2 separate regions of the Homo sapiens genome follow, and region 1 is linked to region 2. The links come from fine-mapping of genetic effects on gene expression. Tissue or cell type: nucleus accumbens. Region 2 holds a variant in brackets; the other region holds the start of a gene. All regions are shown on one strand. Distances are from middle to middle. Region 1 holds the start of LL0XNC01-250H12.3 (a long non-coding RNA gene). Region 2 overlaps LL0XNC01-250H12.3 (a long non-coding RNA gene).

What was found. PIP is the estimated chance that this variant, and not a neighbour inherited with it, causes the effect. A credible set is the group of variants that fine-mapping cannot tell apart.
Region 1: LL0XNC01-250H12.3 starts here. The variant in region 2 is the best candidate, but not a certain one, in a credible set for the expression of LL0XNC01-250H12.3 in nucleus accumbens (GTEx, PIP 0.77).

Annotation. Positions count from the first base shown.
Region 1 is chrX:103,402,490-103,407,010 of GRCh38, reverse strand. It overlaps LL0XNC01-250H12.3 (a long non-coding RNA gene), which reads right to left and starts at 2,231. Exons shown (of 6, transcript NR_188440.1): 1 at 1,915-2,231. RefSeq lists an enhancer at 2,071-2,240.
Region 2 is chrX:103,458,918-103,463,177 of GRCh38, reverse strand. LL0XNC01-250H12.3 (a long non-coding RNA gene) reads right to left here. Exons shown (of 6, transcript NR_188440.1): 4 at 1,824-1,963. Among named protein-coding and RNA genes, the nearest start is that of LL0XNC01-250H12.3, 56 kb to the right of the region's middle. RefSeq lists an enhancer at 2,502-3,001. The variant G/A (reference allele first, on the strand shown) is at 2,245.

The sequences.
Region 1 (4,521 bases), 56 kb after region 2:
GAAATGTGTTTGCCTGGAGACAGGGCGGTAGGAGGGGTAGGGACCCCAGGTACTATAGAACTGAAAATGTTATTTCCTACGAAATAATAATAATAATACTTAGGCTTATCTGGTTATTTTAGGAGATGTGACTAGGTATCATTATAATTGGGCAAACTATCAAGTAATTGTTATTTTCAAAAATACTAAATTCTTGTACCTGACATTTAACTAACACTTAATAAATTCCTGGCCTCTTAAAAAATTACATTGCAGAATGGATGAAAACACGCTAACCATGAAAGCATGCATATTACAATCTCAAATTGCTATGAAGACCTTCTAACCACCTGCATATTTCAACTTCCATCCGAGATACATGGGAATAATGAATTATTATTTATACAGTCAGAAAACTATGTGTAAATTTATTACAAATGCATGTTAAATATCAAGTTTCTTCCCCAACTGAACAATTCATTGCTTTAAGAAAGGTAGCTCCAAATGGGCCTCAAGGGATACTACAAAGCATGTAGCTGCTGATGCACGCAATGAAATCCACCTGTTGAGCCTCTTTTCCAGTGATAAGATCAAAGTGGCTGCTCTACTTTTAGACTACTTTGTGAACTACACAGCTACTATTCTGCAACATACTTCTGCTCAGATCTATGAACTCACTTGAGCCAGGCATCATATCCCACCAAGGATGGAAGTGCTAGAGATCTCCTGAGGACTGCTGTCCTGCAAATCTGAAGTAGAAGCTTCAGCAGTCATCATGACCTAGATCATCAGAACCCACCTCCTTCAGACACCTGATATAAGTTTAGTTGCCCCCGTGAAGTGCTTCCTGGGGAGAGACAGACTCCAGCAATCACTATGCTTTATTGAAGTGACTCTGTGCCTGCAACCATGCTGGGCACTGAATTAGTGACCAATGACACTGACACAATCAGGTAGTGATCATAACAACAGAAGGAACAATGAGTTTCTCACCAGGGCCTTTTCTTCTCCTTTCCATCTATCACCTAATAACAACTTTAAAAAAGAATGAGGAAACTGCCTGAGCCCTTGGTAGAGGAACACAACCACTACCAACCTGTAGCCCAACACCAAGGAATCTGGCACTGGGGACACATACCCCATCTTTCCCTCACTCACTTGCTAGTATCTCCCATTGGCCAAACCCAACTGGAAGCCTAAGGAGAAGGGATCTGAGTTGATGTAATCTATAAGGATCAGACCTGTGAAGCACAGAGTAGGGTGGTGAGGGGTGGAAGCTTTGAAGAGACAAATTGAGGCTATCCAGCACAGTATCTAATATACAACTGTGCTGTAGGCTGAATAACACTCCTCTGCCCCAAAGAAATCCATGTCCTAATCTCTGGAACAAGTGAATATGTTACATTACATGGTAAAATGGACTTTACAGATGTGATTAAGTTAATGATCTTAAAATGGTGAGGTTATTCTGGATCATATGGGTGGGCCTGATATAATTACAAGGGTCTTTATGAGGGAAATAGGGAGGCAATAAAATCGGAGAAGTAGATGTGACCACAATATGGAGGTTAGAGTAATGTGAGGGCATGAGCCAAGGAATGCCAGCAGCTTCTAGAAGCTGGAAAAAAACGAAAATTCATTCTACACTAGAACTTCCAGAAGGAACATAGCCCTGCTGACACCTTGATTTTAGCCCAGTGAGACCTACTTTGGACTTTTGAACTCCAAAACTGTAAAATAATAAATTTCTGTTGTTTTCAAAAAATAAAAGAAAAGAAATAGCCTGAATCCATAAAGCACCCATCGTCCCATAACAACCACAGGGCTATCTATCATCTTGCACCTGTGTTATCACTGCAGGTTGCAGCAATCCTGTGGGTGTGCATTCTTATCCTCATTTTACAGAACGGGACGCTGGGCTCAGAGAGTCCTTACCTGTCTGATCCTCCCACGTCCCGCCTGTATAGAAAGTTGCCCCAGGACACCCGGAGCAAGACATCACACTCACTGGGGCGAGGAGGGTCCCAGCTCTTTCTCTCTCTCATGAGACCGCCAGGGCAACTTATGCCAAAGCGGGAACGAGGGAACTTGGATCTGGGCTCCTTTCGTCTCTCCACACCCCAGGAAGGTTCAGCCCCCACCGCGGGGCACCCACACCCTCAGCTGAGTCCCAAACACCTGAAGGCGGGACCCTGCTCTTCCTGCCCGGCCACGTTGGTCTCTATTTTAAAAGTCTTCACGGTCGCCGTTATGACGTCAGGTTTCTATGGCAACCGTGATACGCAGGCTGGTCCAGCACACCGGAAATGCCATAGAGTGGCCTTTTGACTCCTTGGCTTTCACAAAGAGAAAATGGCTTCACTCTTCAGGCGGCTTCCTGGGTAGCTATAATAATTAGAGGAACTAGGCTGGGACGGAGCCAATTGATAGAATTCTGCCAGGTTTGATGGAACAATGTCCCGGTTGTCAGTAGTTTTGTTTAAAAGTGACAGTAGAGGAATATCACCAGTGCACAGAGACCTGGAGCTCTTGGAGATAAGCTAGCTCACTGAGGAGGAGCATGTACAGTTCACACACCACACTAATCAGTTATCCATCTGTGGCAGAAAACTAAGACTGTCTATAATCATGTGACTAAAAGATCTAGGAACAACAAAATAAGTCATTTAAGATATCTCAGAGTTATTTCAGTAATGCAAGCCTAGAAACCTAATCAATTCAACCATGCAATGGTTTGTCTTGAGAAAATTCTTATCCTTCATTCCTACATGTGGAGGGACATTCATGACCACAACATTTCTAGACTCTCTATACACTCAATCCTTTTCTGTCACAGGAGGAACTTCTCTAATTGGTGAGTTGGGAAGAAGAAAAAGGGGTTGCATTGCCCAGGCTGCCTCCCTTCAAAATTCTTGGTAGTAAGCTGCTCTTCAGGAGCACTTGTTCTTCCCTGCCCTCAGAGGTGGATCTTTTTTTTTTTTTTTTTTTGAGATGGGGTTTCACTGTTTCACTCTTGTTGCCCAGGCTGGAGTGCAATGGCACAATCTTGGCTCACTGCAACCTCCGCCTCCCGGGTTCAAGCAATTCTCCTGTCTCAGCCTCCTGAGTAGCTGGGATTACACGCATGCACCACCACACCCAGCTAATTTTTATTTTTAGTAGAGACAGGGTTTCTCCCTGTTGGTTAGGCTGGTCTTGAACTCCTGACCTCAGGTGATCCGCCTGCCTCGGCCTCCCAAAGTGCTGGGATTACAAGCATGAGCCACCGAGCCCAGCCCAGAGGTAGATCTTACAATAGGCCCACAGTGCTACTCCTCTTTCTGTGCCTCACTGGCTCAACTATTTCTATTGTCTTTCTCCAAATTGCTTGGATTTTTTAAGCAATTTACCTCCATGCTTCAAGTCTAAGCTTGAAATCAAGTAATAAATAGATGAAAGAAGAAAAATACATGGACTTTATTCCTCATAAAGAAGATACTGGAGAAGATGACTTAGATTTGCTGGCATGTGGGCTTCCTATGAAGGATCCACAGAATTGAAAAAGATTTATCCACCAAGTAGTGCCATGACAGGAAAATCATAAAGGCCAAGGACTGCAATGCATATCAAGCTGCTGTCTGGTGCAGGAGTCCTATGTGTTCCCATGGAAAGTAGCTTCCTTGCAAGGCTATCCCCTGTAGCAGGAGAAAGAGTTTCAAGATCTCTTCTTTCAGAAACACTTCTTAAAGTACGTAAATAACCCTTGTTCAGAACGAATACTCACCAAGCCAAAGCCAATCTCTGAGGCTTTCCCCGTGGAGTCATTTGTGACAACACTTTGTCAGTACCTTAATTCATGTGATTTCAATAGAGGCTCATCTCATGGAATTAGGTTCTAAATTCAGAGTAGGTTGAAAATCATATATTGTGATAGCTTCCATTGAAAATTCCTTCAAGAAGGAATTGACTAAATATTCAGAAATTTATACACACACACAAACAAACACAGAGACTATACTCAAAATTATTAGTATAACAATGTCCCACCAAGCCTTCAAGGATAAGAGAATCCCTTTGATATCCAATGATAACAAAGTACAGAAAAAGGGGAAAAGTTCACCCAAACCATGTTTTAGATAACCATTTCTACCTAACGAATACCCCAAAACAAACCATTTATTATCTCTCAGAAATCTGAGTGTTGACTGAGCTCAGCAATGTGTTTTCTGCTGCATGTGGTGTATGTTTCGCGGGGCTGTGGGGCTACACTCCACTGGGACATCCAAGAGAGTTTACTCACATGAAAGACAATTGGTGCTGATGCCACCTGCAGCTCAGTTGGGGTTGCTTCCTGGAGCACCTTGGTTCAGCACAGAGTCCCCATGTTTAGGGCAACCAGATAAAATAGAGGATATCCAGTTAAATCTAAATTCCAGATAAAAATGAATAATTTTTTAGTGTAAGTATGATGGTTAATTTTATGCATCAACTTGACTGGGCCATGGTACCCATATATCTCATCATCATTATTCTGAGTGTTTCTGTAAGGACGGTTTTGGATGA
Region 2 (4,260 bases):
AGCATGACATCCTGGACACAAATCCAAGCTGTCCCACTCCCTAACTGTGTAGTCTCAGGCAAAGTCCTTATTCTCTCTGCCACTCAGTTTCTCATCTATAAAGTGGGAATCAGCAAGGATATCTCTTTTTTTGAACATTACTATTACCTTTATTTATTTTTTCAATTGATATATAATATAGGGTTACATATTTTGGGGGGTACATGTGAAAATTTAACACACTCATATATTTGTAAAGATCATATCAGTATAACTGAGATATCCATCACCTTAACTATTTGTTTTCTTTATGCTAGAAACATCTAAATTATTCTCTTAACTATTTTGAAATACACAACCTGCATTCTTAAAATCTCTAATTTTCACTACAACCAACCTTGGATGACCTAAATTTTAATTAACTTAAGAACATCTCAAAAGCACTTGGAATGACTGATCTCACAAAATAGCACTATCGTTTTTCCACATGGCTGTACAAAAAGCTGAGGGGTCATACTTTATTCTGCCTTATCCCCACATACTTCACACACACAGCTACTACAGGTCTTACCCTCCCTACCTCCAAACACATACTGTCAAGGTCCATTTCTCCCTCTACACATGGCTGCAGCATTGATACCATCAGCTTGCTCCTCCCTAGACTTCCGCAATATTTTCTAATGGTTATTCTCACACACTATCTTCTCCCTCTCTAGTCCATTCTTTGCACAGTGACCAGAGTCACTTTCTGAAAACATGAGTCAGATGATATTGTTCCCATTCTCTAACCCTCCACACTCACAATACAATCCAAACTCCTTACAATGGCTTAAACAATATTGCTCCTATCTGCCCCTTCAACCTCATCTCACCAGTCTGTGCATTGTCTGCCAGGCTCTAGGCACTTGAGCTTTTCCCTGCTCTTGGAACACACGGTGCCCATGCACATTGTATACACACTGGCAAAAAGTCAGTCTGTGCCTAGCTTCTTTTTGTTATCCAGGACTCAGCTCAAATGTCACTTCCTGAAAAGGAGCTTCACTTACAACCCCATCTGTAATTATCTTTATCTTGGTCATTTAATACTCTATATGTGTTAAAACACAAATCCCCATATGAAATTACCCTGCTCATTGATCTGTTTACCTACTTATTACCAGTTTTCTCAAACTAGAAATGATATGTCCGGGGACCATGTTTGTCTTGTTCTCTGTGCTGTTTCCCCGGTGCTTAGATCAATGCTCCACACATAAATCACTGAATGAAAATTACTGAATTAAAGGAACTGGTACCTATTTCACAAAACAGAAATGACACAGATATTAAAAGCAAAGTAGTAGGAGCAACCAATGATGAAATTAGACATGAAAGGATTCAAATTTTTCATAGACCTTGTTGCAAATCCACAGCAGTGCTTTTCAAACATGGATGAGTACCACAACCAATTGGAAAAATTTCTCAAAATATAGATACCTGCCACCACATCTCCCTGTTTTTCATTCAGCTGACTTATGGTAGACCCAAATATCTACTATTTTAACAGGCAATCCATGATGATTTTGATGAAGTAGTCCACGAACCATACTTGGCAAAATTCTGATGAAAACACCTCACATTACTGTGCCATTAATTTAATGCCCACCATGGAGAACTCTAGGACATCTGGATTGTCTCTGTTAAGGTAATTACTCAAAAGTGACTGGTCCTTCCCTCCCACCTAAGATCACAGTTTGCTTTCCCATATGAGTTCATTGTTAATCTCCAGAGTATTCTTGAGTGGTCAGGAAGATTGGGAATTATTATCCTGTTGAATAGATGAGGCTGGTGTAAGGGAAGTGACTCACCTAATATGTCCCAATGATGAGACTTTCATCGCTTCACTCTTGCTCCAGTAGCCTGTCTAGCAGACTCCACATCACATTTGGTTTTTCTCTGTTAGCTCCTAGTTCTAGGGCACAGAGTACACCCCTTCTCTGATGTTACACTAGAAGGGAGATAAGAAAGCACATGGAATAGTGAGGAAAGAAAGAGGACAGGTAAGGAGGTTGTACGTGTGATGATGTTTTGCCTATACCCCATTCAGTTAACTGGAAGCTAAGCAATGAGGTTTTTCCTCTCCCTCAGCTTCATCTCACTGTCCCCACCACCACACAGCAGTGATACTCAAGATTGCACATGACAGGCTGGGCACAGTGGCTCACGCCTGTAATCCCAGCCCTTTGGGAGGCCAAGGTGGGCAGATCACAAGGTCAGGAGACTGAGACC[G/A]TCCTGGCTAACATGGTGAAACCCTGTCTCTACTAAAAATACAAAAAAATTAGCCAGGCATGGTGGCATGTGCCTATAATAGTCCCAGCTACTTGGAAGGCTGAGGCAGGAGAATCACTTGAACCCAGGAGGCAGAGGTTGCAGTGAGCCGAGATTGCATCATTGCACTCCAGCCTGGGCACCAAAGCAAGACTCCATCTCAAAAAAAAAAAAAAGATTGCACATAATAAGAAATGATAATAGAAATGTAGACTTAAGTCTTAGCCAAGATGGCCGAATAGGAACAGTTCCAGTCTACAGCTCCCAGCGTGAGCGACGCAGCAGATGGGTGATTTCTGCATTTCCAACTGAGGTACCAGGTTCATCTCACTAGGGAGTGCCAGACAGTGGGTGCAGTGCACCGTGCGTGAGCTGAAGCAGAGCAAAGCATTGCCTCACCCAGGAAGCTCAAGGGGTCAGGGAATTCCCTTTCCTAGTCAAAGAAAGGGGTGACAGAAGGCACCTGGAAAATTGGGTCACTCCCACCCTAATACTGCGCTCTTCCAATGGGCTTAACAAACGGCACACCAGGAGATTATATCCCGCACCTAGCTCGAAGGGTCCTATGCCCACGGAGCCTCCCTCATTGCTAGCACAGCAGTCTGAGATCAAACTGCAAGGTGGCAGTGAGGCTGGGGGAGGGGCGCCCGCCATTGCTCAGGCTTGAGTAGGTAAACAAAGCAGCCAGGAAGCTCGAACTGGGTGGAGCCCACCACAGCTCAAGCAGGCCTGCCTGCTTCTGTAGGCTCCACCTCTGGGGGCAGGGCAGACAAACAAAAGACAGCAATAACCTCTGCAGACTTAAATGTCCCTGTCTGACAGCTTTGAAGAGAGTAGTGGTTCTCCCAGCACGCAGCTTGAGATCTGAGAATGGACAGACTGCCTCCTCAAGTGGGTCCCTGACTCCCGAGTAGCCTAACTGGGAGGCAGCCCCCAGTAGGGGCAGACTGACACCTCACACGGCCGGGTACTCCTCTGAGACAAAACTTCCAGAGGAACGATCAGACAGCAACATTTGCTGTTCACCAATATCCACTGTTCTGCAGCCTCCGCTGCTGATACCCAGGCAAACAGGGTCTGGAGTGGACCTCCAGTAAACTCCAACACACCTGCAGCTGAGGGTCCTGACTGTTAGAAGGAAAACTAACAAACAGAAAGGACATCCACACCAAAAACCCATCTGTACATCACCATCATCAAAGACCAAAGGTAGATAAAACCACAAAAATGGGGAAAATACAGAGCAGAAAAACCGGAAACTCTAAAAATCAGAGTGCCTCTCCTCCTCCAAAGGAACACAGCTCCTCACCAGCAACAGAACAAAGCTGGATGGAGAATGACTTTGACGAGTTGAGAGAGGAAGTCTTCAGAAGATCAAACTACTCCAAGCTAAAGGAGGAAGTTTGAACCCATGGCAAAGAAGTTAAAAACCTTGAAAAAAGATTAGATGAATGGCTAACTAGAATAACCAATGCAGAGAAGTCCTTAAAGGACCTGATGGAGCTGAAAACCAGGCACGAGAACTACGTGACAAATGCACAAGCCTCAGTAACGGATGCGATCAACTGGAAGAAAGGGTATCAGCGATGGAAGACGAAATGAATGAAATGAAGCATGAAGAGAAGTTTAGAGAAAAAAGAATAAAAAGAAACGAACAAAGCCTCCAAGAAATATGGGACTATGTGAAAATACCAAATCTACATCTAATTGATGTACCTGAAAGTGACGGGGAGAATGGAACCAAGTTGGAAAACACTCTGCAGGATATTATCCAGGAGAACTTCCCCAATCTAGCAAGGCAGGCCAACATTCAAATTCAGGAAATACAGAGAACACCACAAAGATACTCCTCGAGAAGAGCAATTCCAAGACACATAATTGTCAGATTCATCAAAGTTGAAATGAAGGAAAAAATGTTAAGGGCAACCAGAGAGAAAGGTCGGGTTACCCACAAAGGAAAGCCCATCGGACTAACAG